Linked DNA regions of Homo sapiens: all the other regions are linked to region 2. The links come from fine-mapping of genetic effects on gene expression. A gene starts in region 2. Each other region holds a variant in brackets. All regions are shown on one strand. Distances are between the middles of the regions. Region 1 holds the start of CLEC7A (C-type lectin domain containing 7A). Region 2 holds the start of CLEC9A (C-type lectin domain containing 9A). Region 3 overlaps CLEC9A (C-type lectin domain containing 9A).

Region 1 (11,259 bases), 99 kb before region 2:
CTTGCTCTGTTACCCAGGCTGGAGTGCAGTGGCGCCAGCTTGGCTCACTGCAACCTCTGCCTCCGGGGCTCAAAGAAACCCTCTCACCTCAGCCTCCCAAGTACTTTGAACCACAGGCATGTACCACCATAGCTGGCTAATTTTTTGTATTTTTTTTTTTGTAGAGATGGAGTTTTGCCATGTTGCCAGGCTAGTCTCGAACTCCTGGACTCAAGCCAACCACCTGCCTTGACCTCCCAAAGTTCTGAGATTACAGGCATGAGCCACCGTGCCCAGCCATAATCTTTTCTATTTAATTCATGTATCCATTTATTTCTATATATTCACATGTTTACTTATTTCTCTTCATTTATTTGTATGAATTTTCCAGAAAGTCACATTAGACATATACAAAATAGATATTTGTTTGAAAAGAATGCTATTTTTTGAGGTTTAATTCTGAGAGTAAACACTACTACTTAATGTATATAGCAGTGAGTGAGCAGACTGACTCAGCTATTCTTTTATTTTTTATTTTAACAGGTTTTGGGGAGCAGGTGGTGTTTGGTTACATGGATAAGTTTTTTAGTGGTGATTTCTTATATTTTTGTTGCACCCATCACCTGAGCAGTGTACACTGTACCCAATGTGTAATCTTTTATCTCTCACCCACCTCCCGCCCTTCCCTCCAAGTCCCCAAAATCCATTGTATCATTCCTATGTCTTTGTATTTTCATAGCTTAGCTCTCACTTATAAGTGAGAACATACAATGTTTTGTTTTCCATTCCTGAGACTCAGCTATTATGAATTCGGTTCTTTCAGCTATTTTATTGATGTAATATTCAATCTACCTCTGGGTTTCATTAATTACAATTTTAGTTTATAAAATGTGTTTTCCACTTCTAAGAACTCTTCTCAGATTGCTCATTTTTCTTTTTTCTCTTTCTTTCTTTTCTTTTTTTTTTTTTTTGACAGAGTTTTTGCTCTTGTTGCCCAGGCTGGAGTGCAGTGGCACGATCTTGGCTTACTCTTGGCTCACTGAAGCCTCTGCCTCCTGGGTTCAAGCAATTCTCCTGCCTCAGCCTCCCAAGTGGCTGAGATTACAGGCATGCGCCTCCACGCCTGGCTAATTTTGTATTTTTAGTAGAGACGAGGTTTCTCCATGTTTGTCAGGCTGGTCTCGAACTCCTGACCTCAGGTGATCTGCCTGTCTCTGCCTCCCAAAGTGCTGGGATTACAGGCATGAGCCATTGCACCCGGCCAGATTGCTCATTTTTCTTGGATGACCCACTTGTTTTATAGATGAAAGTTTTCAACAAACTTCACTGAAAATGTAAGTTAGATAACTGGTTTGTTTTTTGTCTTTTCTTTTGTTAGGTTGGTTTGTTTCCACCTGTTTCTTTCCTTTTTTTTTTTTTTTTTTTTTAGATGGAGTTTCACTGTTGTTGCCCAGGTTGGGGTGCAGTGGCACGATCTTGGCTCACTACAACTTCCACCTCCTGGGTTCAAGTGATTCTCCTGTCTCAGCCTCCTAAATAGCTGGGATTAAAGGCACCTGCCACCCCACCCAGCTAATTTTTTATATTTTTAGTAGAGATGGGGTTCCATCATGTTTGCCAGACTGATCTCAAACTGCTGACCTCAGGTGATCCACCTGCCTCAGCCTCCCAAAGTGTAGGAATTACAGGCCTGAGCCACCATGCTCGGCCTTCCACCTGTTTCTTGCATTAACATTTAATGAGGGGTATTTTTCTCTGAATACCCAGCCTATCTCTCCCACTGTCTTGAAATACGAAGGGTATTGTTTTTCTAGTTTGTCAATGATTTGCATAATTAATGTTTAATTGCTTTATTTTAGACAAAGAGACAAAAAAGGAGAATAATGAGAATTAGACTAAAGTTTATGTTTATTGAAAAATTTCTTTGACCACTTAGAGAGTTAACTGTTTTCATAGGATTGTGATTAAACACAGGGTGACAGTCAAAGTCACTATAGGGAAAAACTCTCCCACTGGAGGTCTGATTTGATAGTAAAGACAGCTTCTTATTACTGACTGCAAGGTACTCCCCTCATTATTGTTCTCTAGTTCTCTATTTCTATTTAAGAGGTCGACCCTTTTTCCTGGAGCCAATGTATTCACTGTTTGAGAAATTCCATGGTATCCCTTTGTAGGGGTGAAAGATTCCTTTTCCTCACTCATTGCTAGGTTCACGGCATCTACAATAAAACATAGATCAACAAGAGAATAGCATCCAAATTTATTTAATAGAAGTTACCTGAACAAACAGGCCTTGTTAAGTTCTACTCAGCTTATTACCATTAGATTATACCCTTTTGTTCTCCAGTCATACTTCTGCATAACTGTCCGTAGAAATACTCAGTTTTCCCTGCGTCTTCATTTCAGAAGGCTCTCTTGTCGTATAACATTTACATGCTTTTGTTTTGTTAATCTGTCTTTTGTTATAGGGGTCTCAGTCACGAACCTGGTGATGGGCAAGGAAAAGATACTACTTTTTCTCCCCTACGTTGGACAAGGAGGGTATGATCTAATGCTAATAAACTGGAGGGAGCTTAGCAAGACTAATTTGTTCAGATTCTTCTTGGCATCTCTGTATCTTCAAAGATAAGGAAGTTTCTTTCCTCTAGGAAACAATACTTCTAAAATAAGGGTCTTATGATCTGCTTCAGGGCAGAAAGACGGGGAAAGGTGTGAGAGTGAATTTCCTGATTCTGCTGTTTTCTCAAATGCCAAGAATCCATATTTTGGGGTTGCATGTCCTGAACCTCATACGCTGCTTTCCAAGCACTGCATTATAGGACTGAAACACTGATGAATGTTGAGATTAAGATCCACATTACCACTTTGCAACATGTCTACAAAAACTTAGTAAAACTTTTGTGGCAGCTTAAGTAAGGCGGGAAGCTCATTTATGTACTCTCTTGAGCTCTCTTCCATTTTGATAGGTGTTAGACTGTCAGAACTGCAGAGCCCTCATCATATAACAACTCCTCCCAAATCTCTGCACTAGAGACTTGGCAAACTCTAGCACGCCTTCTAGTAGCCTAAGGCAAGGTCCATAGGATGATTCAGCACTACTTAAAAGGCCAGCCTGAGGAAGCCCAATGCTGCTAGGAGAATTTACTTTTTGTTCCAGTTAAAACTTGTTAACAGGCCAGGTGTGGTGGCTCATGCGTGTAATCCCAGCACCTTGGGAGGCCGAGGCGGGCGGATCACGAGGTCAGGAGATCGAGACCATTCTGGTTAACACGATGAAACCCTGTCTCTACTAAAAATACAAAAAATTAGCCAGGCATGGTGGCGGGCGCCTGTAGTCCCAGCTACTTGGGAGGCTGAGGCAGGAGAATGGCGTGAACCCAGGAGGCAGAGCTTGCAGTGAGCCGAAATCGCGCCACTGCACTCCAGCGTGGGCAACAGAGCGAGACTCTGTCTCAAAACAACAACAACAACAAAAAACTTGGTAACAGATAGGCTCCTGAATTCCTTTTAGAGCAGTTACTTTAGAAATCTTACAGTTAGGCCAGGTGCAGTGGCTCACGCCTGTAATCCCAGCACTTTGGGAGGCCGAGGCAGGCGGATCACCAGAGGTCAGGGGTTCAAGACCAGCCTGACCAACATGGAGAAATGCTGTCTCTACTAAAAATACAAAATTAGCCTGGCGTGGTGGCACATGCCTGTAATCCCAGCTTACTCAGGAGGCTGAGGCAGGAGAATCGCTTGAACCCGGGAGGCGGAGGTTGTGGTGAGCCGAGATCGTGCCATTTGCACACCAGCCTGGGCAACAAGAGCGAAATTTCGTCTAAAAAAAAAAAAAGAAAGAAAAGAAAAATAAATCTTACAGTTAAATTCTTTCTCTGCCCTTTGAGAAGCAAATCTACCACACAGAACTGTTTCTTCAAGGACTTGGGAGCTGTTTCTTTGAAATGCAAACATTCAGGGAGATAAATCTTGCTCTTTCTTTCAGATGCAGCATAAGGACCAACTTAGCTGGGTGCTTCACTTCAACTATCACCATGTCCTTCTGTCATATAGATAGGCAAAGTTTCTCTGTCCTCTGGATAAGGGCCAATTAACAAATCCAGAGAGTCTAGTCACATTAACTTTCCTTAACACCACTCAGTATCTTTTCCTTAGCAAACTCCACTTTAAAATGTCATCAGCTTTACTTTTGGGGAAGTTGAGTTCAGTTAATGCTGCACTGGTTCCTGTTGCAATAGTATTACTGAATAAAACCTGTCCTCACCACATTAACTAGTATCCAGATTTGTTGATCCTTGACAACACTCAGATGTCTCCTGCACTCTACTGGCTTCAAGGTCGGATAAATGAGTTGAACACCTCTTCAGTTTCCAGCAATGTTAGGTGTTTTCTATATTTCTTTGATTTGATCATTACTATGGAAACTGGAAGAGAGGGAAAAAAAATCAAACATCTAACATAATATTTCAGTCCCAACACCTTCCATAAGCTGTTCCTTGCAATATAAGTGTATGGAATGATGAAAGAGGCAGTGTAGCGTAACAGAAAAGACCACGAGTTTTGCAGCAAGAGTCAGCTTTGATTTGATTCCTTGCTCTAAATTTTTAAAATTAGCTTCTTAAACCTGAGAAAGAGGCTAAATTTTCTGTCTCATTTTTTCATTTGAAAATAGAAATAATAATGCCTACTATATAGACTTGGAAAAGTGAGATTGAACAAGAAAATATGTACAACATGTGGTACTTAGCTCATAGTAATTGTTCAATAAATGTTATTTTGTGTTAATATCTGATAATTCCCAAAGAGATTTGTTTTCTCTGTCTGTTGTTACAACAATGCATCTCCTCATGCCATCCCTCATTTACCTATCTATATATTTCCTTTATTAAGCAATGAGTTTCTTCATAGGTATCATTTTTCCTTGTATTGTAAGCTCCTACCAATTGAAAAGGTGGGCATCCAGTACCTGTTTATGTAATTTAAAAAATACATGAATAAATACATGAACAAAGTTATGGTAAACTTGGAGCACCAAAACTGAAATAGTTTGCATCGGTTAAATTAATTAATGTCAGACTTAGTTGTGAGAGTAATGAAGGCAGCATAAGACATTAATGTATGCATTTTTCTTACATTTGGTCTGAAACAAAGACTCATCTGCTATGCTGCCTTTTAGTTTTCCTGAGTCAGCAGTCTCAGAAACAGGATCTAAAGGTACAAATGGAAAATTACCACAGCATAGTTTCATTTCCTGCTCTTGAATATCTGGTTGAACTACTTAAGCTTAATTTGTTAAACTCCGGTAAGTACCTAGCCCACATGATTTGACTCAGAGATTCTCTTTTGTCCACAG[ACAGT/T]CATCTCAGGAGCAGAAAGAAAAGAGCTCCCAAATGCTATATCTATTCAGGGGCTCTCAAGAACAATGGAATATCATCCTGATTTAGAAAATTTGGATGAAGATGGATATACTCAATTACACTTCGACTCTCAAAGCAATACCAGGATAGCTGTTGTTTCAGAGAAAGGTATATATATGTTTTTTCTAATGTGTGCCTTTAGCTCTCCCGTTTGAAAAGATATAAGGGGAGGCTAGGCATGGTGGCTCACACCTGTAATCCCAGCACTTTGGGAGGCCGAGGCGGGTGGATTGACTGAGGTCAGGAGTTCGAGGCCAGCTTGGCTAACGTGGTGAAACTCTGTCTCTACTAAAAATACAAAAATTAGCCGGGCATGGTGGTGCACGCCTGTAGTTCCAGGTACTTGGGAGGCTGAGGCAGGAGAATCACTTGAACCTGGGAGGTGGAGGTTGCAGTGAGCCAAGATCATGCCAATGCACTCCAGCCTGGGTGGCAGAGCAAGACTCCATCTCTGAAAAAAAATAAAAATAAAAACAAAACAAAAAGATATAAGGGGAGAAAATTTGAGAGCCTCGTGATGTGTATATTTTTATGGATATACTTTTAAAGGCTTCAGATGTCACTGAAGATAAATTGAATGCACCCTAAACCTTTTTTCATGAAAATTATTCAGTGACCAATTATTAGTGTTTAAATTAATTATGTCTGATGGCAGAAAATAGAATTTCTCTTTTCTATAGATATAGACATTTCATCAGTGAGGAATTGGTAATAAGTGGGATAATACACAAAGATAAAGGATTTCTGTATGAGTGACTTGTTGCTTGTTTGATAGAAAGGCTAGATTATCGAATGGAGGCCAGGAAACTTAAAGAAGTATATATATGAACAACATTTTTTTTTTGTGGTAAGAGATTAATTTAAATTGTTTTTAAACAAAAAACAATTATTGGTATACCAGTGATGGAAAATATATGAACATATGGTAGATAAAAACATCCCACCAGCAGGACATGAGTCTTAAACAAAGTGTAAATGAAATGAAATAGAAAGAAGGGCATTGGAGGATCTCTGTATTCATAGAATGGGTGATTTAGCCTACTCTACGATTCTCCTATGTGACAATTCTATGAAATGTCCTGACAGCTTAGTCACAGTGGAAAGCAGAAATACATTCTGGTTATGGCAATGTTCATACAAAATTAGTTCCCTATTATCTTTGAGAGAGAGAGATCATTTGTCGGTTTTGACACCAGAGTTTGCTTTCTTCTGCTTTCTGGTTATTCACACTGCACAAATATTTTCCTCTCAGCACTGATGTAATTCTTTTCTTGGGCAACCTATTGAGGAAGCGTGGAAAAAGTGGATGAGGCAAGAGGTAGGGAGACATGCGCATGTTTATGCATATGTGTAGGCAAACGGTATCCTGCAACAACACACCTATCATGTGCTAGCAGTCTCTAAACAAGGTGCTTTTATATGTGTTAGCTCGTTTAATTCCCGCAATAATCCTTTGAGATATTATTACCCCAGTTTCACAAAGAGGAATAAAAAACAACAAAGGGAGTAATTTGCCCAGGGTCATGCAACAAACATATGAAAAGGGAAAATTACCCTTAGTAATCAGTGCTATCTCCCCAACATTAAGCTATTTCCTCTAAGAATCAGTGGGATTTCAGGGATCCTACTAATGTCAAGACCTGTAGATGTCAATGTGGAACTGAAATTAGGAGCATACAGTTATCAAGCCAATGTGCCGAAATTACAATTCCAGCAATTGAAGAAGAAGGTATCCTTACTGGTGGAGAAGCACAGCAAATCCTAGGTGACCAGGTAACCTAGGCAGTGATTAATAATTCACTTAAAAATTTGCCAGTATTTTTTGTTGTTGTTGTTGGTGGTGTGTGTGTGTGTGTGTGTGTGTGTGTGTGTGTGTGTGTTTTAACAGGGTATCACTTTTTTGCCTATGCTGCTCTGGAATTCCTAGGCTCAAGTGATCCTCCTGCCACAGCCTCCAGAGTAGCTGGGACTACGGGAGCTCACCACAATGCCCAGCTAATTAAATTTTTTTTCTTTCTTTGTTTTTCTTTTTTTTTTTTGGTAGGGACAGGGTCTCCCTGTGTTGCCCAGGCTGGTCTTGAGCTTCTGGCCTCAAGCAATCCTCCTACCTCAGTCTCCCTTCTGGGATTACAGGTGTGAGCCACCGTGCAAGGCCAGATTTTTGATGAACTGTAGAATTAAACTGCCCCACCATCCGTCATTCTCTTTCTTTATTCCATTTCTGCCCCCTCTGGCTCCTCAGGATCGTGTGCTGCATCTCCTCCTTGGCGCCTCATTGCTGTAATTTTGGGAATCCTATGCTTGGTAATACTGGTGATAGCTGTGGTCCTGGGTACCATGGGTGAGTATTTGGTGGAGGAGATTAACAACAGACAATTTAGTAAGCAATTATTATGTGCCAGGCACTCTTTTAAGGGCTTGACATGCATAATCTACTTTAATTTGTATATAATCTGGTTTTATCTGTATTGGGTTGGTGCTGTTAATGCCCATTTCACTTATAAAGGGTGTGAGAGACTGAGAGGTTATTTTACCTTTCCAGGGTTATAAGCTAGTTAGTGGTGGGACCATGATTAGAAATTTGGGTGATCTGTCTAAAAAACTCATACTCTTAACTACATTGCTCTCCTACCTCCCTTACATAGCTGGTTTCAAAGCTGTGGAATTCAAAGGATAAATTAATGAAGAAAACAAGCGGAGCTGAAGAAGAAAGTACAATATGGTGCTGTCTTCCTAATGAAATAAATTCACTAAATGGACATTAAGCTATTTTTATGATTCACATTATTTAAGGAAATTATTTCCGATCTTTAATATAAACACCTTTGAATACACCAGAAATTTCCTGAGGCACTTGGTCTTAAGTCGATATTTTGTAATGGATTAATATTTTTTTTACATTTTATATCACATGCAATCTGTTGTCAGTCACCTTCAGAGAGTCTTCATGACATTCCTTAATTAGTCAAATGTTTATTGAGTGCGTTCTATGTTATAGGTACTGGGCAGTTTCTCAAGGATCTCTCATTTTTAAATAACAGAAGAAAGGTGAAAGATGTTGCTATTTCAAATCTGTCATGGGTCCAATTGACTCTATGACATTTGCCTCTTGCTGCCTCCCTCATTCTATTTCTTCTTCTCCACCTTCTTTTTTCTTTTCTTTTTTTTTTTTTACTATACCTCCTTTATAAAAGTTATGTATTTCTTTTCATCTATTCTATCAATCGTCTTTATCTCTCCACAGCAATATATCATCTATTTATCATTAATCAATAATGTATTCTTTTATTCCAATAACATTTGGGTTTTGGGATTTTAATTTTCAAACACAGCAGAATGACATTTTTTCTGTCACTATTATTATTGTTGGTATGTGAAGCTATTTGGAGATCCAATTCAGGAAGCAACACATTGGAGAATGGCTACTTTCTATCAAGAAATAAAGAGAACCACAGTCAACCCACACAATCATCTTTAGAAGACAGTGTGACTCCTACCAAAGCTGTCAAAACCACAGGCAAGGGCATAGTTAAAGGACGGAATCTTGACTCAAGAGGGTTAATTCTTGGTGCTGAAGCCTGGGGCAGGGGTGTAAAGAAAAACACTTAGATTCAATGATTGTAAATTTAAGGCAAATACACATATTAGTATTACCTTAGTGTAATGTATCCCTGTCATATATACAATAAGGTGAAATTATAAGTACCCTATGCAGTTGGCTGGACAGTTCTAAATTGGACTTTATTAATTTTTAAAATCAGTAACTGATTTATCACTGGCTATGTGCTTAGATCTACAGGAGATCATATAATTTGATACAAATAAAAGAAAAGTGTTCTCTCCCCTTACAGAATTGACATTTTAAATGCGATACAGTTAGAATAGGAAATATGACATTAGAAAGGAAGAATGACAGGGAGAAAGGAAAGAAGGGAAAATGTTGCCAAGAATAAGGAAGCTATATTAAAAATATACAAAAGAGGTAGACCTAATACACATGTCCCTGAAAACTCATCAAATTTGTTTAATCATACAATTTCATTTACTTAATTACAATTCTATACACACTTGACTTTTACTTCTAATTGCATCATAATTGACTATGACTTAATGTTTTCAGTTCAATTTTTCATCTCTGGACCCATACCTTCTCACTATTTTTATTAAGTAGCTAATAATATATAACAGAGATAGTGTATAATATGAATAATTGGCCTATACTTTTCTCACTTGGAAAGTCACATTATGAAGTAGATCTTACATCATAAAATAAGTAGCAATATGAAATTGCTGTGTACCTCAATGACTGATTGTGAGTGGACTTATTTTAAGGAGTTATTAAGGAGAAAGGTAGTTTTGAGCTGAATTAGAAGGAATAGAAGACAAGTGAAGAAAAAAAGGATGGTTGGCTGCCTAAAATACTATTTATAGCTAGTTTGTTTTTAAATTTTAAATGAATAGGAAGATTTTAATGTATTCTCATCTGTAAAATCATATCCCTGTAGTTCGAATTGACAATGAAATATAAAAATGGCAACTAATTGGTTATTTCATAAGTGTCCTTAAGATGAATGGTGTTCACACTAAAAGAGTGAATTGGTATGCTATGAACCTCATGGTACTAATCTTTTATTTCCAGGGGTTCTTTCCAGCCCTTGTCCTCCTAATTGGATTATATATGAGAAGAGCTGTTATCTATTCAGCATGTCACTAAATTCCTGGGATGGAAGTAAAAGACAATGCTGGCAACTGGGCTCTAATCTCCTAAAGATAGACAGCTCAAATGAATTGGTAAGTGTAGACTTCTGTTATGATTATCTGTGGTGTGTATCCTGAAGGAAGATAGAGGGAGATTCCAGGTAATGACAATTTTTCCTAAAATGAAGTCTTTTTTTTTTTTTTTTTTTGAGGCAGAGTCTCACTCTGTTGCCCAAGCTAGAGTGCAGTGAAGCCGCGACATCCCAGGCTCAAGTGATCCTCCCACCTCAGCTTCCTGAGTAGGTAGGACTACAGGGTGCACCACCACACTCGTCTAATGTTTTTTTGTATTTTTCATAGAGACGAGGTTTCTCCATATCATCTGGGCTGGTCTCAAAATCCTGGGCACAAGCGATCTGCCTACCTCGATCTCCCAGTGTTGGGATTACAGGTGTAAGCCACCATACTTGGCCAAAATTCATTTTTAATATCTCTATAATTATAATCATAGCATGCCTTAAGCACATAAAGTGCATAGTATATGCTTTTATTTTTAACTAATTTAAAAAACTGTGTTTCGCCTTAAAACAAATCCTTTCAAACATACTCCATGTATGCATGACTACAATAATCAGGACACTACCCATTTTTGTGAGTTTGTATTTCAATTTTTAAATATGGTGGAAGTAAAGTAGAAAATTCTTCTCCTTGTCATCATAATTATCAAGAAAAATGGCAACAATGATAATATATGTTTAGAAATTATTTACTCTTTGCAAGATACTGGGAAAGGCAAAGAGGGTTAAAACATAACCCTGCTATCACAGGACACATATAATCTTTTAAGTAAAAAAAAAGCAACTCAGCAGCTATTAAAAGTTAAATATCTGGCATTAGCAATAAATTCTATAGGAGTTTAAAGAGATCCCCGTGTTCCTAAGAAGTTTTCAGAAAAAGTGGCACTTATAACACATCATGAATGAAGGGTAGAGCTTCAATGAGGTAAGATAAGGGGTTAATAGGAAAAATTCTATGTTATAAATCTAAACCAGTCTATAACTTCTACACCTACTTTCACTATTCTTATTTTGTTTTTGTTTCTGTAATGTCTTACCCAGTAGTAATAATTTATATTAAAGTTAATGGAACTAGATATATGGCAAAG
Region 2 (11,259 bases):
TCATAGCTTTTCACAGACTTCTTACCACCTTTAAGCTAAAGCCTCAGGTGCTTCTATTAGTGATATTCAGTCCTCTCTCTCAGCCCTCTTCATTACAATTGTTGGTTTGCCTTTGACTTACCAGGCTTTCACACAAATACTAAATGCTATTTAATTTGTAAAGGGGTAAGATTTCCTGTCATAGAAAAGTATAGTTAATATTTTCTCCTTCATTTACAGAAAGCTTAAACATGTGGATTTCAAAGTGGAATGAGCTTTATTAAAAGTTAATACACCAAACAACTAATAACTATCAGACCAAAATTATGGCAGAACATTTGTGACAAACAGTAGTGAAAATGAAGGGAAAAATGTGTCAGACTGCAGTCCTATCACAAAGTTTATCAGGCATTTGCATACCAAACATGGAAGTAAAAATTAAATAAGAATGAATGATAATCAGTTGGATTAATTAAGATTTGCATTGGTATTTGAAGGAAAGGTAAATATTGCCTAAGAAGAAAAAGAAGAAGGCAATGTTTATCAGGCAGGGCAAACATCTTAATAAAAACTGGGAGTTTGAATAAGTATACTTCTTGTAAAAAGCAGTACCAGGCACCGGGCATGGTGGCTAACTCCTGTAATCCCAATACTTTTGGAGGCTAAGGTGGGAGGATTGCTTGAGCCCGGGAGCTTGAGATCACCTTGTGCAACATGGTGAAACCCATGGTTTAAAAAATTAGCTGGGTGTGGTGGCGCACGCCTGTAGTTCCATTGCGTGGGAGGCTGAGGTGGCAGGATCACCTGAGCCCAAGAGGCAGAGGTTGCAATGAGCTGAGATCGTGGATCTTGCCACTGCAGTCCAGCCTGGGTGACAGAGCCAGACCCTGTCTCAAAAACAAAACAATAACAACAACAAAAATGTACTATCATCTAATCTACTCAGTGCGATTATGGGAAATAGTGCGATTGATTGAGGGAAAGTGGTCTGATCAAGTATATTTGAATTGAGGATTCATAGTATGTTAAGTATATTTGCCATTGCACTTTCCTTTAAAATTACTACAAAATTTCATGGCAAGGGCAATTAATTAATCATTTATTTGAACATATGTGATACAGAAGTGGGGCAGAGAAGTGCTGGATAGAGAAAGGCGGATCCCTGGCGAGGGCTCCACCCCCGGGCCTTTGCCCACCGACCTGGATGAGGACAGGCACTCCTGCCTTCATGCCCAGATGTTGCATTTCCCAAGACCATCCTGGCCCGCATGTCCCCATCCTGTGCCTATAAAACCCCCAAGACCCTAGCAGGCAGACACATAAGTGGCTGGACATTGAGAGTAGTCATCAATGGAACAAGACATAAGTGGCTGGACGTCAAGAGCATATCGGCAGGCCACCAACTGGTGAAACAAGGCAGAGTTTGGCCGGGACAATCAGAGGAGAGCCTGGGCCACTGAGTGGCCAGACTCCAGGGGAAAACCATCACCCTTTTGGCTCCACCATCCGCTGAGAGCTACTTCCTTTCACTAAAACCTTGCACTCATTCTCCAAGCCCACGTGTGATCTGATTCTTCCAGTACACCAAGGTAAGAACCCTGGGATGCAGAAAGCCTCTGTCCTTGCTATAAGGTAGGGGTCTAATTGAGCTGACTAACACAAGCCACCTATGGACGGCTAAACTAAAAGAGCACCCTGTAACACACGCCCACTGGGGCTTCAGATACAAACATTTACTCCTAGACACTACCGTGGGGCCGGAGCCCCACAGCCTGCCCCTCCCCTAGAGGTCTGAGTAGCGGGGCACTGAAGAAGCGAGCCATACCTCCATTGCACACTCTGCTAGGGGGACAAGAGAACTTTTCCCATTTCATATGTTTATTGATCACTGTGGAAGTCCCAGGCATGTTTCTATTTTCTGGGGACTAATCGTTAATGAATCATACAAGCAATGAGCTTGTATTATAGTAAAGGGTGGGGAGCACAGATAGTAAAGAAACATAGAAAGCAAAGACCAATATAATTTTACATCGAAAGCAAAGATCAACATAATTTTACATCATGAAAAGTGCTACAAATGAAGAAAAGTGATATAATTGAGTTCTTCCAGACAGGCTGGAGGCAGACCCTGGTTGGGCTCATGAGAATTGGTTTGTTTAAGCTTCACTGTCAGTGCTTGGGCAATGTCCCAGCTTTCTTCCTTTTTTTAAGATAATCCAGAATAATCCAAACTTACTTCCACTATGACAGCTGCCATTTATTGCTCTTTCTATATGCTTTTATCAGTTACATTTGTGGTAGGCATTAAACTTATGACAAATTTACTGCTAAGAAAAATAAAGCACAGAGGCTCAGTAACTTGCCAAAAGCCACAGGGCAAGTAAGTGTTGATCCAGGATTTGAATCAATCAGCCTGTCTTCACAGTGCTTCATTTTAATTCAGACATTTTATTATCCTGGTCAGGCATACTCACCTAATTGGGTGACTATATTAATACATTTAAAAATAAATTCCATCCTATATCCATCCTCTGTCTCCTCCTTGTGGCCATTTATTTTTCTTCTGCTTTTAGTTTATTTTTGTTTCCCTTATGCCTTTGATAACTCTGGCTTTCATCTTCATTTTTCCCTATTTCTTTTTTTGTAAATAATTCTGAATTAATTGTCATTCTGGCCATTCTCTGGGTACTATCCAATTTAGGCCCCACTTTAAAAGTGTCCTCTGAAACAGGCATAAGATGTGAGAATGGAAAGACTGTTAAAGAACAGAGTGAGAATGAATCCTCCTATCATGTTAACTCAGCATTTCTTTTAAGGTATTCTCAATCAACAATACTTCCATAATTAATAACTGTGCTTCCATATTTTCCAAGGTGAACAATATTTTCTGACATGTTTAATTCATGTGAGAGCAGCAAGAAAAGTCAAAGGTGATTCCAAGTTTTTGGCAGAGGAACCGTAGGTATGGAATATTCATTTATCGAGATGGAGAAACTCATTGGGAAGAGTCACTCATTTTTTGATGTGTTAAGTTAAAAAATCCTAAAATATATCAAAGTCAATATGCCAAGAATCCAGTCAGATATGTGGTTCTGGAGATCAAGCAATGGTATGGAAATATAATTTTGGACATTATCAATGTATGGCTATTAAGTCATGAGGTTACAAGAGATTAATTCCCATTCTGGCCATTCTATGGGTACTATCCAATTTAGTTCATCCCAGGATAAATTAAAAAAAAAACAAGAGGACCAAGAACTGAATTCTGGGACACAACAACATTTTAAATTAATTTAAGGAGGAATCCAAATCTGAGGGAGGATTGGGTTGTGAATGAAGCAAAAGGAAATTGAAGAGAACGGTGTCCTAGGGAACACTGTATTTTAGAGAAGAATGTATGTTATGAAAAGGGAATAATCTTTTTTTTTTTTGAATGCTTATCTGGTGCGTGAGATGAATTCTGAGAACTAGCCATTAGATGTGTTCATGTGGAGGTTAATGGTGACTTTGACTGGAGTGTTTTCATAGAAATAGTGAAGGAAAAAGCCTAATTAACATAAAGGAAAAGTAGGATGAAACAGTAAGCACAGAGAGATTTTTGAACATTTTTGTTGTCAAGAAAATTAGAGAAATGTTAAGAAGAAATATAAGAAAATTAGAATCGTGTGTATGGGGGCATGGTAAACAAAAGATGGCTTTTGCTTGTTTTTAACATAGGAGATATTATACCATGTTGGGAGGTGAAGGTGAGTGAACAAGTGGAGATGAAAAGAAATTGATAGTGCCAGAGCGAACCAAAGAAAGAAAATTACAAGCTTGAAATCCCTATTGGCCGGGCGCGGTGGCTCACACCTGTAATCCCAGCTCGTTGGGAGGCCGAAGCGGGCGGATCACGAGGTTAGGAGATCGAGACCATCCTGGCTAACACGGTGAAACCCCATCTCTACTAAAAATAAAAAAAAATTAGCCAGGCTTGGTGGCGGGTGCCTTTAGTCCCAGCTACTCGAGAGGCTGAGGCGGAAGAATGGCGTGAACCCGGGAGGCGGAGATTGCAGTGAGCCGAGATTGCGCCACTGCAGTCCAGCCTGGGTGACAAAGCGAGACTCCGTCTCAAAAAAAAAAAAAAAAAAAGAAATCCCTAAGGAGGTAGGTGGATGGATTTTAATATACAGATGGAGATTGAGCATAGATTATGTTACGGGATCTTTGGGATGTTGATTTTCTGTTCAGAAACCTGTGTGGCTGTGGCGTCTTTGCCCGAGTTCTTGTCCTGCGTCTATGGTTGCTAGATTGTATGTTAATATTATACTTAGCTCTGTAAGAAACTGCCACACTGCCTTCCAAAGTGGCTATGCCTTTTTACCTCTCACCAGCGGTGAATGAATGCTCCTGTTGCTCCACATCCTTGCCAGCATTGGATGTTGTGAGTATTTTGGATTTTAGTCATTCAAATAGTATACAGTGGTTTCTCATTGTTGTTTTAATTTGCAATTCCCTCCTAAGGTATGACATTGAGCATCTGCAACACTGAACTTAGCTCTCCAAACAAGGCTCAGCCTTGTCTGCATTCCTTTCCCTACCCTCACTTCCCCTTCTACTTGGAATGTTATTTGTAGCATTTGTTTGTCTCCTGTAACCCTGCCAATCCTTCCCAATCCTCAGAGCCTTCACTGACAGCATCGGGCGGCTCACTCGTTCCTGCTGCCATAGTAATTTGTGCGTAACTTTTCTTGAGATTTATCACATCCTGTTATTATATGCTGTTTCTTCTACCGACATTGGTTGCTACTCCCATTTCTCAACCTCCTGGCTTCAAGCAATCCTCCCACCTTGGCCTTCCAAAATGCTGGGATTACAGGTGTAACTAACTGCACCTGGTCTTGCTACTCCCGTTTCTAAATAAAATTTCAATCTGAGTAAAAACTAAAGCCAATTTCTTCCCAAAATGGTGGGGGGCACTGGACACAATATCGAAGACCATTAGCACAATCAGTAGCACCAGACAATGAGTCAGCAGAGTCACTAAAGCCTCAGGCCACGAGTTAGAAGACACTTCACAGATTAAAGGAAATCAACAGAGGAGTAAGAAATAACCAGGGATGGCCTCCTGGAGATTTCGTGTTTGACTCCCTTTCCCTCTCTATCTCTAAAGAGAAAGTGCAGAGGGCATTTTAGACTGAGGGATCAGTAGGAGCAAGAGTAAGGAAGCTACCTGATTTACAGAGGCTGTCTACTGCCTGCAGTATCAGGCCATTGAAATACACTTAACGTCTTTCCACCAGCGGCTCCAGCCTTCCCCTCCACTTGCATCTTCCCTCATCCATCTCTGCAGATGATACATACTCCCACATATCATTCATTATTTCTTAAATATATCAGCTCACACCTTCATATTATTTTACATTTCTTCAGAATCTTTCCTAACCTAGAATGCCCTTTCCCCTTTCTCCTTTAATCATGCCTTTCTTATAAAGTAGGTTCAGATGACCTTCTCTGTCAGCATCATCTGTAATGACATACCTTCCACCCTACTGCCAGTGGTTCTTACCTCTTCTGCAGAGAGTATCATCAGTTTGAATCATTTAGATCTTGGCTAACATGGGAATCTTTACCATTGTGTGGATCAAATACCCAGATCTTGATAAGAAAAATAAAAATGCTATTGTCACATAAATGGCTGGGTTTAATCATCTGTGGGCCTTAGAGTATGTTTTCTTCAGGACAAGGTAGGCCGTTGTGCTTCACAAGAGCTTGCGAGTTATTTGAGAAGAATCAAAACATGTTGCCAGTCTAGCAGAAAAGCATTTCAACTTCACCACAGATTGCCACAGCCGGGTACAAACGGAAGTCCCGCCCCCTTCCAGGTTGTTGGGGTGGGAGCTGCCGGATGAGCTGCTGCGGCCCTCGGGGCGCAGGACCACACCATCTGCGCAGCCTGCACCCTCGCGGCCCGGTAAACTTGACAGTTTCTTATAGAGGTAAGTATAGTATTAACAGACAATCTAGGAACCATAGAAAGTGGAAAACCTGTACACACTGCTGAGACCAGCTCGGTCTGGGAGACCCTAACCCAGAGGCGCTAGAGGAATTAAAGACACACACAGAAATATAGAGGTGTGAAGTGGGAAATGAGGGGTCTCACAGCCTTCACAGCCGAGAGCCCCGAACAGAGATTTACCCACGTATTTATTAGCAGCAAGCCAGTCATTAGCATGGTTTCTGTAGATATTAGGTTAACTGAAAGTATCCCTTATGGGAAACAAAGGGATGGGCCGAATTAAAGAAATAGGTTGGGCTAGTTAACTGCAGCGGGAACATGCCCTTAAGGCATAAATTGCTCATGCTATTGTTTGTGGCTTAAGAATGTCTTTAAGTGGTTTTCCACCCTGGGCGGGCCAGCTGCTCCTTGCCCTCATTCCCGTAAACCCACCACCTTCCAGCATGGGTGTTAGGGCCATCATGAACATGTCACAGTGCTGCAGAGATTTTGTTTATGGCCAGTTTTGGGGCCAGTTTATGGCCGGATTTTGGGGGGCTTGCTCCCAACACACACAAAAACTGGCACACACATTTTCACAGGAGCTTTATTCATAATTGCCAGACATTAGAAGTAATTATGATGTCTTTCAAAAGATGAGTGGATAAACAAACTGTGGTACATTCATGCAATGGAGTATCATTCGACAACAAAATGAAATGTTGTCAAACTATGAAAAACATGGAGGAATCTTAAATGCATATTACTACGTGAAAGAAGCCGGTTTGAAAAGCTATCATATTATCCTAGCTATATGACATTCGAGAAAAACCAAGACAAAGAAAACAAAGAGATCAGTTGTGACCAATGATTCAGGGGAAGAGGAAGATTGATAGGAAGGGGGAAGATTGCTGAGTAGGTAGGGCACAGGGGATTTTTGTCTGCAAAAATGTACACCCATGTACATAAGCAGGGCTCTGAATTTTTTAAACTTTTCAAATTTTGTGGCAGGGCCTATTGAATGGGTTGAGGGAGACCTTCCTGATTGATACCTACTAATGTATATACAAATTTGAGACAGATATTTTGAGGGAGAGTGGAATTCAGGTACAACATACCTATTACCCCAGAAAGGTGTCAAGTGGAAGTAAAAAAAAAAAAAAAGAGGTGTGTGAGGTAAAAAATTAAATTAAATTCTAAATGAGGACATGGAGGTTCTTGTGGAAAGTTTTTTCTTGTATATATATATATATATATATATATATATATATATATATATATATACACACACACACACACACACACTATGTTTTCTTTATCCACTTGTTCATCAATGAAATGAACATTTAGCTTGTTTTCATATTTTGGCTATTGTGAACATGGGAGGAAATGAGATATTTGTAAGACTAACTCAAACATTGCATTAAATGGTCCATATTTAATATAAAGAAATCAAGATAATTAATATATACGTCTGGCTTTTCAGATAATGGATGTAAGCCCTGTCCTGAAAGGTGGCAATGGAGCAAAAGACCAGTAATATAAAATAATTCAGGAATCCATAACATGGCAAGACAGCAAGGATAAAAATTTTTAGAGGATCTCTAAAATTTCTACCTTACTCAATATAGAGAATAAGGAATTGGTAAATATGCAGGTCTCCTGTCTTTTGTTAAAATTTACAGAGGTGAGGTGAGAAGGTAAGGGTAAGTTAAAAAAATTATTGAGTACCTAATAATAAAATACTATGCTCTCAGGCGAGTCTATAAATGATCACATTTAATTCTTCCTTTGTGTGCAAACAACAGCCTTACAAGTCTGGTAATATCATTCCTAATTTTTAGATATGAAACCTAGGCTTTAGAGGATAAGAAACTTGATTTAGATCACACAGCCTGGTTTTGCATATTGAATAGGATAACAAAAAGAGACAGAGGAAATATATACTTCCTCATTTAAATACTTATTTTTGTCTTTCATTATTGAATTCCAAATCTAACACATCATTCTGGAAAAGAGAATCTAGGGAAATAATAGTGTACAAGAAGAAGAAAATAAAATATAAACCAAAAAAGAGAATAATTTAAAAAATACATCGTATCTTGAATTTATAATTGTTCTAAGGTGGATACATTGTTATTGTATAAAGTTAAGGTTTACACAACAACTCACCTGCCTTCTGACAATTCTGACAATCAAATGCAATACTTTGGAAAGTTTTAGGAGAGCACGTTTCATTAGGGAATCAAATTTTCAGTCTAGGTAAATGAAAAGTATGCTGAAAGAAGAGAATGTACGACTGATCCGGGGAAGAAGCTTTAAAAAGTAAACACTTAATGAGATTTTTATTTATATTGGATTTAATAGAGTTTGGAGGCAGAGGAAAAGGCAGGATAAGAAAACAACTTCCTAACTTGTGCATTTTTTTTCAATGTCCATCCACAGCACAGAAGCCGTGGTGGTGTCATGGAATATTGTCAATTTCGGTTACATTTCATCATGGTCAAGTCAACTCCAGGAGGCAGCATCATGGACGATTTGGCTTATGTTCTGCTTTTGTCTTCTACAGAACCTTGTGTCTCACTGTTGTCTCCTTCCTGGCTGGGGTTATCACATGGCATATCCAACTGTGAGTGTGGGAAGATGGCATAATCCTCTGACTGTGTCAGAGTCTTAGGAAATTGTGACTGTTATAAGATGGCACAATCTCTTCCCTGATGTGTGTCAAGTTCTTAGAAAATTGTGGTGAGCTATTCCTTTTTCTTTTGGCAGGTTTTTGTCTTGGTGTTTACCAAGTGATCCGAGATAGAGAGAGGGAAAGAGGAGAGAGAGAGAGGGAGAGAAGGAGAGAGAGCGGGGGAGAGAGAGAGAGAGAAAGAGAGACAGAGAGAGACAGCGAGATGGGGAAAAAGAGAAAGGGAGAGAGAGGAGACAGGGAGAGAGGGACAGAAAGAAACGGAAGGAAAGAAGGAAGGAGGAAGGGAGGGAGGGAGGGAGGGAAGGCAGGCAGGCAGGCAGGCAGGCAGTTTTATTGCATGATCTGTGCCCTTAACCACAATGATTTGCTTCCATGGAATGAATTTCCTATTTAGCCCTCTGATTACCTAGAGGTAACCTCATACAGATGATCTATAATGAAAGTGATTGGAATACAGTAAGCTTATTTTTTTGCCAGGATTATAATACCTGGTATGATACTAGTTTACATCTCTTACAAACTACCTAAGACTAAATTTATAAGTTCTGGTCTATTATTAAGTGAGGTCTATGCAATTTCAAATACTGGGAAAATGCATGTACTGAAATATGCATTACTAGAAAATTAAAAATTACTCATTTTAAAAAATGAGTTGGAATTCCTGTTAGAATTCTTATAACCAGCATGCCCTTATATCCCTTAGGAGACATTTTTTGGTAATTTCCATTCCTTTTATGATTAAAAATGTAGGTTTTTTTTTTGTCTACTGTATTAGTCTGTTCTCATGCTGCTTAGAAAGACATACCCGAGACTGGATAATTTATAAAGGAAAGAGGTTTAATTGACTCACAGTTCCACATGGCTGGGGAGGCCTCACAATCATGGTGGAAGGCAAAGGAGAAGCAAAGTCATGTCTTGCATGGTGGCAGGGGAACTCTCCTTTGTAAAACCATCAGAACTCATGAGACTTATTCACTATCAGGAGAACAGCACAGAAAAAACTCGCCCCCATGATTCTATTACCTCTCACCAGGTCCTTCCCATGACACGTGGAGATTCTGGGAGCTATAATTCAAGATGAGATTTGGATGGGGACACAGCCAAACCATATCAGCTATGCGAATCTATAATTTTCTCTTTTTAAATTTTTTATTTACTTTAAGTCCTGGGATACATGTGCAGAACCTGCAGGTTTGTTACATAGGTATACATGTGCCATGGTGGTTTGCTGCACCTATCAACCTGTCATCTAGGTTTTAAGCCCCGCATGCATTAGGTATTTGTCCTAATGCTCTCCCTCCCCTTGCCCCTCATCCCCTCAACAGGCCCCAGTGTGTGATGTTCCCCTCCCTGTGTCCATGTATTCTCATTGTTCAACTCCCACTTATGAGTGAGAATATGCAGTGTTTGCTTTTCAGTTCCTGTGTTAGTTTGCTGAGAATGATAGTTTCCAGCTTCGTCCATGTCCCTGCAAAGGACATGAACTTATTCTTTTTTATGGCTGCATAGTATTCCATGGTGTATATGTGCCACATTTTCTTTACCCAGTCTACCATTGGTGGACATTTGGGTTGGTTCCAAAGTTTTGCTATTGTAAATAGTGCTGCAATAATTTTCTCTTAAAGTCTGCTTTCTCTTCTAGCAAAAGAGCCAGAGGAAAAGCTATACTTATACTTCACCAGCCTCCAAAATTCCCAAAGTTAAGACACAGACTTAAGGACTGCCATAAGCTACATTTCTGTCAACTGAATTATAATCCTATTGTCTTCTAACAGGAATATAGGAAAGAAATAAAGATAAATGTTAATTCTGTAACATAGTCATGTAAACATAGCCTGCAACATATACAACTTTCTTTTGCTCCTATGATAAATTCAAATGTGCAATATACCACAAATGGGGGCCTAGATCTGAGGAATCAAGCTTTCATAGAGCAATAAAAGCGTTTATTTTGTTCATTTCTAACTAACAACCTAAAATATAAAGTTCTTAGAAACAAATAGTTTAAATTAATAAAATGAATATGCCACATTTTATTTTTATTCTATTCACATGTCAATGGACATTGAGGTTGCTTTCGTGTGTTGGCTATTGTGTACAGTGCTGCAATAAACATAGGAGTTCAGGCATCTCTTTGAAATTGCAATTTCAATTTCTTTGGATATATACCCAGTCATGGGATTGCTAGGTCATATGGTACATGCCATGGAATATTATTTAGCCTTAAAAAAGAAAGAAATCCTGCCATTGCAGCAACATGAATAAATACGGAGGATGTTATGCTAAGTGAAACAAGCCAGATACAGAAGGACAAATGCTGCATGATACCATTTATATGAGGAACTTCAAATAACCAAACTCATAGAAGCAGATAGTAGAATGGTGGTTGCCAGGGGTTACAGGAGAGGGAAATGAGGAGGTATTAGCCAAAGGGTAGAAAGTTCAGTTACACAAGATGAATAAGTCCTACAGATCTACTGTACAGCGTAGTGCCTATAGACAACAATACTATATTGTATATTTAGAATTTTCTAAGAGTGTAAATCTTACGTTGTGTTTTTATCACACAAAAATATTAACAATAAAGAGGGTGGGAGGACTTTTC
Region 3 (11,259 bases), 26 kb before region 2:
ATGAAATTAATTTTGGGATATATTTAACTAAATTTTTTCTCTTCTATAATAATCTGATTATTCCAGTTTTATCAATCTTTCCTTTCTTTGAATTCACATCATTTATTGTCTTCACTTGTTTGCTTATTGTTTCATGTCTGTTAGTCTTACTGCCCCAATTTAGCCAGAAATGTACTGGACCATTGGATGGATTGAATAATAAGCCCTGAATTTATGTTTAAATTCTGAGAGCTAAACAAGGAAATATTTTATAGATAATGGAGAGAACAAGTAGTCTGCCTTAAGGAGTGATTTGAAAACATGCAGGTGAGGAAAATTGGAGAAGAACATAAATGAACAATATGCTTAGTTTAGGACTCTGATACAACTAAGAAGTAAGCCTTAATGTTTAATCAGTTTTATGGAACCTGTTTTAAGATGGAATATAGTCACAAAAGAAGGATGGTCAAATGTGTAAAAGGGGAACCAAAGACCAAGAATTTGACCAAGTGTTTCTGGCACAGGTTTATAGAAGGAAAGACACTGAAACTTCCACAACTCTGGTTTCTAGACAGTCCCTGTATTTAGGCCAAGAAATAATTCATCAGTAGCTTCCATGGGCCAGATGTTAAGTTGTTTAAAGCTCTTCAATATCTTTTGTTTGAAATCCCTGCCAACCAATATCCTGAACATTGCTATAGTATAAATAGTGTAGACAATGGTATTGGTGGCGTTGAAGAACATGTTGGACTTGTACGTCTCCAAAATGGATATTGTTATTCTATTCAAGGTTGATGGCTCAGAGGTGGGCCTCACCCGAGTTTGCAATGGCCTGCTGCATAGAGAAACATGGTTGGGCACACAGTGATCCTTCAAACACTCGATTAAATTTTAATCAGAAGGAACTATGGTTGATGTTTGACTTCTCTCATTGGCAATTATGTAAATGGTATCCAGTCTAGGAAAGTTAATTCTCTAAACTATATGTACAAGCATTATGAAATGCCAAGCATAGAATACATGGCAAACTATATGACAGGTAGAAATAGACTCTGCATTAGGTTTAAAATGCTTGTAAAGCATATAAAAGATTAAACTGCAGTAACTTCATAGAATTTTAAAAAAGAGCTAGGTCCTGCATCGTAAAAGAATTTTGTGGTAAATACTCTCATTTTCAAAATGAATTTTTTTGCTCAAAGCTATCTAAACTTGAATCTAAAACAATATCTAAACTAAATATATTGGGAAATTTGGAGCTAGAACTAAAACATCCTTACAAATTTGAATGGCTGGATAAAACGATTTTTTTTTGTGCATGTATTTTTTTAATCTGACCTACTAATTGCACACACACCTCTTTGGCATTTGACTGTACATTTCCTTTAGTTGCATTCTTTTGGATCCCTAGTGTTTCCACGTAGTATTGGATGTTATAAATAAGATTGAACTGAAGAGTGACCAAAATTATGTCACTCTTATTATAAAATCCTAACAGTTTTGCAGAGAACAAAATGTGTGTCACTGTTTCTTTTGAGGTATTGGTGTATATATTTAGATGTATACAGTGGAAACTGATTTTTATCCATTACCTGAACTTAATGAGTTTTGCATGAAGGCTTGGCAATATTTCATCTGAAGGGCACAGCTTCTCTTCCATTCTGTAAAGTTTAGCAGTGCCCTCTCTTGTTGGATGAGTTTTTCTTGCTGCTGCATCGCAATGGTGGACACCTGCAACACTTCACATGATAGCAATCATTCCTAATAAAATCCTGACATTTTATAGCAAAATAATCCTTCAACACAGACTAAAGACAAGTACAAATTACTATTATTTTTGAGACTTGAATTTGTATTATTTTAGGTTTTTGCTTAAAATTTACATTGTACAAGAATCAAACACTACAAAAGACGTGGAACAAAATGTCTCTTTGCACCCATTTTTAATTTGCTTGATTTACTACCCCCAAACAACCAGATTTACCAATTTATATTTTATTATTTGGGAGCTTTTGAATATTACACATAAGATAAAACAAAAAGAAACTTTACAAATGAAGGCAAATGAATATAAAACTCGCTCTCTCCCCTTAACACAAATGGTAACAATATATTTACATGGTTTTGCACCTTTTGTTTTATCATTAACATGCATATTTGAACTCAGTTCCATATCAGTACATAGACATGCAAAATTTAGTTCAATAGCACAACCAGGATATTGACATTGATACAATCAAGATACTCGGCTCCTCCACTACCATCAGGATCTGTCCTTGCCCTTTTATAAGTACACCCACTTCCCTCTTGCCTTCACCCCTTGTTCACTCCTGGCAATCACTAATTTGTGTTCCTTTTCTATTTTATCACATAAATGACATATAAATGCTATCTTACAGTATGTAACCTTTTGCTATTTGCTTTGTTCACTCAGAATAATCCTCTGGAGACTCATGCAGATTGTTGTTTAAATAAATAGTTCACCTATTTTGTATTGTTGAGTAGAATTCCATGATATGAATTACCACTACTAGTTTAACTGTTCATCCACTGAAGGACATCCAGGTAGTTTTCAGGTTTTAGTCATTACAAATAGAGCTACTATAAGCACTCATGTACAGGTTTTTGTGTGAACATAAATTTTCATTTCTATGAGGTATACGCTCAAGAGTGCAATTGTTGTGTTTTAAGGAAGTGTGAAGTTTAGATTTTTAAGAAACTGCTACGCTATTTTCCAGAGTGGCTACAGCATATTACATTTCCACCAGGAATGAGTGAGTGATCCGCTTTCTCTGCAGCTTGACAAGCATTTGATGTTGTCACTTATTGTTATTTTAGCCATGCTGATTATGTATGTAGTAATATCTCACTGTAGTTTTAATTTACATTTCCTTAATGGCTAATGACATTGAACATCTTTTCTTGTGCTTATTTGACATCTGTATATTCTCTCTGGTGAAACGTCTTTTCATGTCTTTTTGCCATTTTCTCGTTGGATGGTCTAGTTTTTTACTAACTAGAGAGTTCTTTGTACATTCTAGGTTCTAATCCTTTGTCAGATATTGATTTACAACTATTTATTCCCAGTCTGTAACTTGGCTTTTATTTACTTATTTATTTTTGTAGAGATGGGGTCTCACCTTCTTGCTCAGGATGGTCTTGAACTCCTGGGCTCAAGGAATCCCAAAGTGCTGGGATTATAGGCATGAGCCACCACACCTGGCCTGTAACAAGTCTTTTTACCCTCTTCCTAGTGTCTTTTGCAGAGTATGTATGTTTTATTTTGATGAGGTCCATCCAACTTACCAGCTTTTCCTTTCATTAACCATTTTTTAATGTAAGTCTAAGAATTATTTGCCTACCTTTAGATTCTGAAGATTTTGTCCTATGTTTTCTGAAAGTTTGACAGTTTTATGCTCTACTTTTAAGACTGTGGTCTATTTTGAGTTAACTTTTAATTTTTGTGTAAGGTTGAAGACTTAGGCTTATTTTCTTTTTCTTTTTTTCTTTCCTATGGATGTCTAATTTCTCCAGCACCATTTGTTGAAAAGGCTATCCTCCTTCTTTCAATTGATTTGCACTGCTGACAAAATCATTTGGGTATATTTGTATGAGTCTGTTTCTGGATTCTTTATTGTATTTTATATCTGTCTTTTTGTCGACTAATACACCTAGCTTTAATTCATACAGGTTTTGAAATCAGGCAAATTGATTCTACTCAGTTATATAATTGGTTTAAAATAAGTTTATGATATGTTAATCATTATTAGATTGTGGTTATTGAATAGACATATTGTATAGAGAGAATGGCATCAAGAAAAATTAATTAGTGAATTAAAAAAAACAAATAAAAACACCTATGCGTGTCAGCCAGACCTTTAGGATTAAAAATCCTCTTTTAGAGAGAAATAGAACAACAAAAGAGGAGAACAAATGGGCAAATCTGTAAAATTATTTTCATATTTTTAACCACAAAACGGAGGTAACCACGATCACACAGAAAAATCATCTGACCAAGACAGGCTGGGCGTGGTGGCTCTCGCCTGTACTCCCAGCACTTTGGGAGGCTGAGGGGGGTGGCTCACTTGAGGTCAGGAGTTCGAGACCACCATGGCCAACATGGCAAAGCCTTGTCTCTACTAAGAATACAAAAATTAGCTGGGTGTGGTGGTGTGCGCATGTAATCCCAGCTACTCAGGAAGCTGAGACAGGAGAGGCACTTGAACCCAGAAGGCAGAGGTTGCAGTGAGGTGAGATCATAACCCTGCACTCTGCACTCCGCACTCCGGCCTGGGCAACAGAGCAAGAAAAGAAAAAGAAAACATTTACATATCTACATATTCTGATCTGTTTTACTTATCAACATTGCTGCTGAGAAGAAAATGCCAGAAATCAAAAGCCATGGACTAGAGAAAGCAGATGT[G/T]TATGCCCTGTCCATCGGTGGATAGTTAACAAAAACCCAGGCTGTCAGCTGCTTGGATCTTTTTCTCTCTTTCTAGCAAAATGATGGATCTAACCAGAGTCAAGTGTAGAACAGTGATGCTCTGATTTTTATCCTATTAATAATCTGGCATGTTTAGACTTTGAAAAATAATAATTTTCTTCTTAGATTCAACATATAATTCTAAAATTTTATATTTAGATACCTTTTTAGATTAGCTATATCATAGAAGCTGTTGTTTATTACTGTCTGAACAGCGTATACTATATGAAACTGTAATAAAACTGGAGAAAGGGAAATGAGACTTCTCTTCAGAGTTTTACCCTAAATGGGAAGCAAAATATAGCACCTTTATTGGGGTTGAAGTTGTAATAAATCTGCAATGAGGAATAAAGACAAAACAATATAATTACCTGGGGAAAAAAAACAAAATACTTTTAACGTCCCCCAAATAAAATTATTTGTTATATGATATCATACATTATACCTAATTGATGAATTAAGAAAATGAACAGTAAAAACAAATTAAAAAGCTGATTTGTTAGAAAATATTTTGAACTATAGATTTTTTAATACAAAAATTAATGGCATAAATAATGTGGTAGAAAAATTAGAAAATGTGAAATAGTAGGAAGAAAATTAAAGTTAAGTCTACTTACTTTGAGAACTACCACTCAAATAATGGCCATTAGTATTTGGTTTATATCTATTGAAACTCTTTTCTATGTATGTATATAGAAAAGTATTTTATATACAACCTTTAGAAAACCATATTTTTATATAAATGTCTTTTTAGAAATCTGCTTCTTTCGTGAGAAAATATTGCATAACCATATTCCCAAAACAATAACAATGGTTCTAGAAGAATTCTTTAAATAATGGCATTGTGTTCTTTTATATAAATATGACATAATTAATTTTACCAGTCCTTCTATTGTCAGGTACTGGCCTTTAGTTATATATATGAGCAATTTGTAATTAGCACTTTCATTATGTTCATGTTATGATACTTTTAAATAAAAGGTTATAGTTTTCATTTACTACTTTTTGTCAGACACATGGTCCTATTTAAAAAATATATATGTATATAATTTAAATATGTTTTCATATTTGTCTTGCAATGCAAGTTTTCATAAAGAAAATTGGATGTAACATTTTAATTTAAAATGGAACATAATCAAAATGGAATATTTATTAAAAAATAAACATGACTTTTGTAACTCAAAGCCTACTGGCTATAACATAATCTGTAACTAGCTGGGACAAGTAATTAGTTATTGAACAGAATGTTTCACATGAAGAAGCTGCTTATTGCTTAACACAACAGTTTTATTATGGTAACTGGTTTTATTTTTTTAAAGCCTTAAGTGTTAAAAATGTATAAGAAGACCTAGGCAAATTATAAATTTAAAAACAACAACAATAAAAATTAATAGTCACTAGAACAAAAGCTAAAGGAAAATATACTTTACGCCTGTACAGTGATATTTAAGTTTTGTAAGTATATATTTTTAGCTCGTAAGACAAAATTTAAAAAGCAAAAACTTTTATTTGTAAGAATTTTCTAGAAATTACTGGAAGTCTTAGGCACATGGTTTTCTAGCTATGTTTCTTTTATCCTCATTAAAGTAACATTTTCTTCATACAATTTGTGTTTGGGGAGTTAACATTTTTTAAATATATACTACATTCATAGGATTAAAACATTTAAAAAAATCCGAAAAGTAAACATTGAAATATATTTTTCTCCTCATCGTCACTATTTATCTCACTTCTCTTGCCCTCACTTTTAGTATTTCTTATATAACCTTCCATTGTTTGTTTAAATTCAAGAAAATGTTCATTCTTAATCAAATTGTAACATAGCATATACATTTAAAAAATAATTTCAGCTTTTATTTAGATTCAGGGGGTACATGTGCAGGTTTGTTACTCAGGTACATGATGCTGATGTTTGGGGTACAATTGATCTCATCAGCCAGGTTTTAAATGCTGCTTTTTTGCACTTTACATACAGAAGTGTTTCTTCTTTCTTTTGTTGTTCTTGCTTCAAGGTATTCTATTGTATAGATGATGTACCATTATTTATTAACATGGTCTCTTATCAATGTGGTGGGTATTTGAGGCTTTTCCCCTATTGTTAAATTGCAGGTTTATCTATAGGTACAATTTCCAAAAGTAGTACTGCTGGGTCACAGTTAATACAGTTTAAAATAATTCACTATCTTAGGAACATGATTTATAGGTTTCATATAAGATTTCGTTTACTAGATGGAGAAGACACTTAGGTATACACTGAACAGCAAATCTTTTGACAACATGGAAAATGTAGAGTGTATCTTTTTTTTTTTTTTTTTTTTTTTTTTGAGACAGAGTCTCACTCTGTCACCCAGGCTGGAGTGCAGTGGTACAATCTTGGCTCACTGCAACCTCCACCTCCCTGGTTCAAGCAATTCCCCTTCCTCAGCCTCCGGAGTAGCTAGGATTACAGGCGCACCCCACCACTCCCGGCTAATTTTTTTGCATTTTTAGTAGAGATGATGTTTCACCATGTTGGCCAGACTGGTCTTGAACTCCTGACCTCAGGCAATCCGCCCACCTCGGCCTCCCAAAGTGCTGGGATTACAGGCATGAGCCACCACGCCTGGCCTAAAGTGTACTTTTATAATCATCCTTATTATGTAGTATATGATTTTTGTCTATATAGTAGACAAAATATTTGGCAATTGGAGACTATAGATTTATGTTTATATAAAAACCAAATTATATATCCCATTCACTTGACAACAGTGCTTCAAGATGTTGCATCTTCAGTTAATTTTGTTTGTAATTGGAAATGATTTTATATGTTAAGTTTTAAAATCTTATTACCCCAAATCATTATCATTTGTAAAATAACATTGAAATTCATTATATAGAATTAACATTTAAAGAATATTTTTTGATATTTGCAATGCAAGTTAAATATGGATTCTTCTATTGTAGAGTTACAATGAAGTTTGGCAATGTGTCATTTAAAGTCCTCAATTTTTACAGAAGAAGGTGGATTATTAGATGTTAATTGACTGAACTGGTCTTTTAAATATAAATTGTTTCCACAGGTATTTAATATGTGTGCTTCTTAAAAAGCGAACTCACATTTGTCTAAAATATGTATTTTTTAATAAGACCCAAAGAGAGTAGATAGAGAAAAAGAAAGCTGTCTTGAAGTTCTAACATTTCTGTTAAGCTGTGAAACTTTATTTGAGGAGACAGACGAAGTAACAATTACTGATTAAGCTCTTGGCAATTCTTAAAACGTTCCTCTAAAAACCAGCAGAAAATGAAGCTCATGACATTACCTAAGCAAGGTCAAACTTCCTATACTTTGTGAATGCGAATCTGAACCTTTCCCTTCCTTATTCTCAGAGTTCATAATTCTTCCTCTCCAGCTGATGTCTTTTAGATAGAGATATGATTTGCAAAGGCATATAAGAAAGAAACATCTACATTTTTCTTAGTGGTAGCATGAGTGATGTTAGAGGTTCATTGTTCTTTTTCTGGAATCTGAAGCTCTGTAATTATTATATTTTATAAAAATTTCACTTGCCAAACATAAAAGTATGTCTTCTATTTGGACTAAAAAGCAATGTGGTTAAATGTGGTCGAACGAAGCTCTCAGGTTTGCATTAAACATTTTAAATTGAAACTTGCCTAATATAAATAATCTTTAAAAGTCAAATTTAATTTAAATGTATATTAGAAACAGAAAAGCAGAATGTGAAATCTTTCAAATTGCATGCTTTAGCATGTTAACATGACTCACAAATGGAATCAGAATATGTTATTATTTTCATTGTTTCTCCCAGAGACCTATAGCACATGATTTGAGTTAAAAAACATGCAATAGATCATTGAAAGTTATCAGTGGCATCCAAGTGCTCAGAGAGTTCTATCAAATGATTGAAATTTGAGGCCATTATTTTATATCATTTATGTGCATTCACATATGAATTGATTTTCCATCCATTTATAAATTATGAAGTTTTATATATAACGATATACATATTTTGAAAATATCTTTTAGTACTTACACTTGACGCCCAAGAAAATGGATGCTGTTAATAATCCCATGCAGAAAACACATGAAATCACCATCACAAGACAGCATGCTCCTAACCACAGAATAGGAAAAATGATACCGAGTTAGAGAAAGCAGATAAAAAAGACGGGGCAAGGATAGATTGAGATTGAGTAAAAGAAGGAATTAACATTGGCATTTCTACTGAGAGTTGTTGGGGCCTGGGATGTGTAAAAGAAAAGGAAAAAGAGAACCTTTGCTCAAATGCACTGAAATACAACTCATAACTTGGAATATATGTGATATGGATACTGCCAAATTAAGTAGATTTAATAGTATACTTCTGTTATCCTTATCTTTGATGTCACACCTTAAACAAACTAATTATATGTATTCTTTTCCAACAATCTTTTAGAGATTCCCCCAAGCCAAATGCTGGCTTTATGTTTTGAGATAAAAAATGCTGTCTCACATCTCCCCATCTCTTCAGTGTTACTTGAACATGATTAAAGAAAAGAAAGATACACATTTTAAATATATACTTTTAAATATACATTTTTTGGAAGACGAACAAGTTTTCCAAGGTAACTTTACAACCCTGCAGAGAGGAAAAAAAAAAGGAATATGTGATTTTTTGTATTCAAAACACTAATCAGAGAAAAATAGTTAAAATTTATCTTTGAATATTGTGATAGGCAGAGAAATGCCCCTGCCTAACATGCCAGTGTCATAATTCCTGGGACTTGTGAGTTACCTTATGTGGAAAAGGGACTTTGAAGAAGTCATTAAGTTAAGGATTTGGGATGGGAAGATTAGCCTGAATTATCTGGATCCCTTTTAAATGAGAGGTAGGATATTGGAGGGACAGAGCATGGCATGATAATGGAGGCTGAGAAACATTTAAAGAGGTTATGTTGTTGGCTTTCAAGACAGAAGAAGGGTCCATGAGCCAAGGAAAGCAATAAATCCAGCTCTAGAAACCAGAAAAGACAAGGGATAGAGTCTTCCACTCGATCCCTGCCAACACCTTGGTTTCAGCCCATTGAAATCCATTTCAGCTTGTGACATCTAGAGCCCTAAGATAATAAATTTACGTTCTGTTAATCCCCTAAGTCTGTGTGATTGGTTACACCAGCAGACAGGAATTAACATAGATATTAAACGATACAGACAGAACTAATCACTATAGCCAACAACTCTAGGCCAATGAGATCTTGCCAGTTTTTCAACCTATGTTTTCTCTTTTTTATTTCTTAGTATTTATCAGATAATTTGCAGAATGTTTTAGTAGGAGTTCAATTAATTGAAGTTGTATTTTTTTCACGTATTTCCCAAATCTAGGTATTGCTTTTCTTTTCTAGAGAGGCAGAGGAAAAAATAGTTCCGCACGTTTATCACGTGTATTGCTCTCTTTATTTTTCACCGTTACTTAATCCTTCTCCACTTCATTAGCATTTCACGGACATTACAGTACCCTTAGGTAGATTATCTCGGATTAGAATAAACATCTTGGCCTCATGATAGAGCAGAAAAAAAAAAAAAACATGAACTCTAAAGTCTCACACAAAATAGTTAGAACTGGTTACCTGAACATTTGTTGGAAGACAGACATTTCTGGTAAGTGTCTGGTGCTGGGCTATCCCACTGAAGAGAGGTGTATATTTCTTCCTCGTGCATGTCTAAGGTGCTTTGATAGGAAAGCAGTCCACACAGGAGGCTGGAACAAGTAACTCCTCTTGTGGTTTGGAGCAGGTTGGTGTAAGAACTGAAATTGGTTACATTTTCACAGTAGTGGGAAAATATGTTTGTGTTTAAGGAGTAGAATAGATGCACCTTCATTCAGAAAGTGGAAGTTTATGAAGTCTAAGCCAAAACACAACTTGGTGAAAAAGGAAATGAGAGAGAACTGAATTTAGAATGGCCAATGATAGAACATTTTTTTATCCGGTTTCCAAAATGTAGCAGATGTTGAAGGTGATAGCAGTGAGTTCAGAAGAAAAAGATGTAAGTGCAAAGAACGCACTTGCATTTGGTATAGGAGATGAAGCGTGGGGTGACCTAGATAGTGAAGATATAAAGATAACTCACATTGGGCAAACCACGGTGTAAAGGGTGGGAGATCACTGGGTAGCCTTAAACAACAAAGCTAGGAAGGGATTTCAACCTTAAAATAAATTTACATACTGTATATCTGTTAGTGTAATGCTACTTACTGTGATAAATAAACCTCAAAATATCAGTACTTAACACAATAAAAGTTTGCATCTTACATAATGTTTTAGCTCCAGGAATCCTAGTTAGTGATAGCATTCCTCCAAATGAGACTTGGGATTCTTTCGTCTTGGGAGACATTGGAGCCCTTGACTTCTATCCACTGGAAAAGAAAAGAGAAGGTGATGAATCCACACCTGCTCTTGAAAGCTATAACCTAGAATAGCATGTCTCACATTCACATCCACCAAAGGCATGCCCACTTTTGGACATAAGGTTTGAGCTTGAAAAATGTATTTTTTGCCTGCACAGCAAGCTCTTGATGACCACTTCACTCTAGAAGGAAAGCATGAATTATTTAGCATTTCTGCCACATCTTGCGACTATAGCATCAGAAATTTGAGACTTTAATCATCATTCATCATTTGACCACTTATCTTTATGGCCAAAGGTTATGTCTAAGTAATATAGTCTATGAGTCCCAATAATATGCAAAATTACACTGTTTACTTTTGTTTCAGTATCTCACTGGATTCATCAGTCTTCTCCCTAGCAATCAGGCCCCCAGAAG

Evidence for each region. PIP is the estimated chance that this variant, and not a neighbour inherited with it, causes the effect.
Region 1: its variant is fine-mapped to the expression of CLEC9A in whole blood (TOPMed, PIP above 0.99).
Region 3: its variant is fine-mapped to the expression of CLEC9A in whole blood (TOPMed, PIP 0.96).

Annotation. Positions count from the first base shown.
Region 1 is chr12:10,124,225-10,135,483 of GRCh38, reverse strand. It overlaps CLEC7A (C-type lectin domain containing 7A), which reads left to right and starts at 5,285. Exons shown (of 6, transcript NM_197947.3): 1 at 5,285-5,504; 2 at 7,639-7,737; 3 at 8,776-8,913; 4 at 10,036-10,187. The coding sequence starts at 5,402. It overlaps LOC105369655 (a long non-coding RNA gene), which reads right to left. Exons shown (of 4, transcript XR_007063208.1): 2 at 4,244-4,403; 3 at 3,692-3,799; 4 at 1,870-2,198. RefSeq lists an enhancer at 926-1,746. The variant ACAGT/T (reference allele first, on the strand shown) is at 5,333.
Region 2 is chr12:10,025,241-10,036,499 of GRCh38, reverse strand. It overlaps CLEC9A (C-type lectin domain containing 9A), which reads right to left and starts at 5,818. Exons shown (of 9, transcript NM_207345.4): 1 at 5,528-5,818. It overlaps LOC102724020 (a long non-coding RNA gene), which reads left to right and starts at 5,877. Exons shown (of 4, transcript NR_169587.1): 1 at 5,877-5,957; 2 at 8,526-8,701.
Region 3 is chr12:10,051,583-10,062,841 of GRCh38, reverse strand. It overlaps CLEC9A (C-type lectin domain containing 9A), which reads right to left. Exons shown (of 9, transcript NM_207345.4): 3 at 10,748-10,851; 4 at 10,064-10,212; 5 at 8,491-8,571; 6 at 1,569-1,715. The coding sequence starts at 10,154. Among named protein-coding and RNA genes, the nearest start is that of CLEC9A, 27 kb to the right of the region's middle. The variant G/T (reference allele first, on the strand shown) is at 4,400.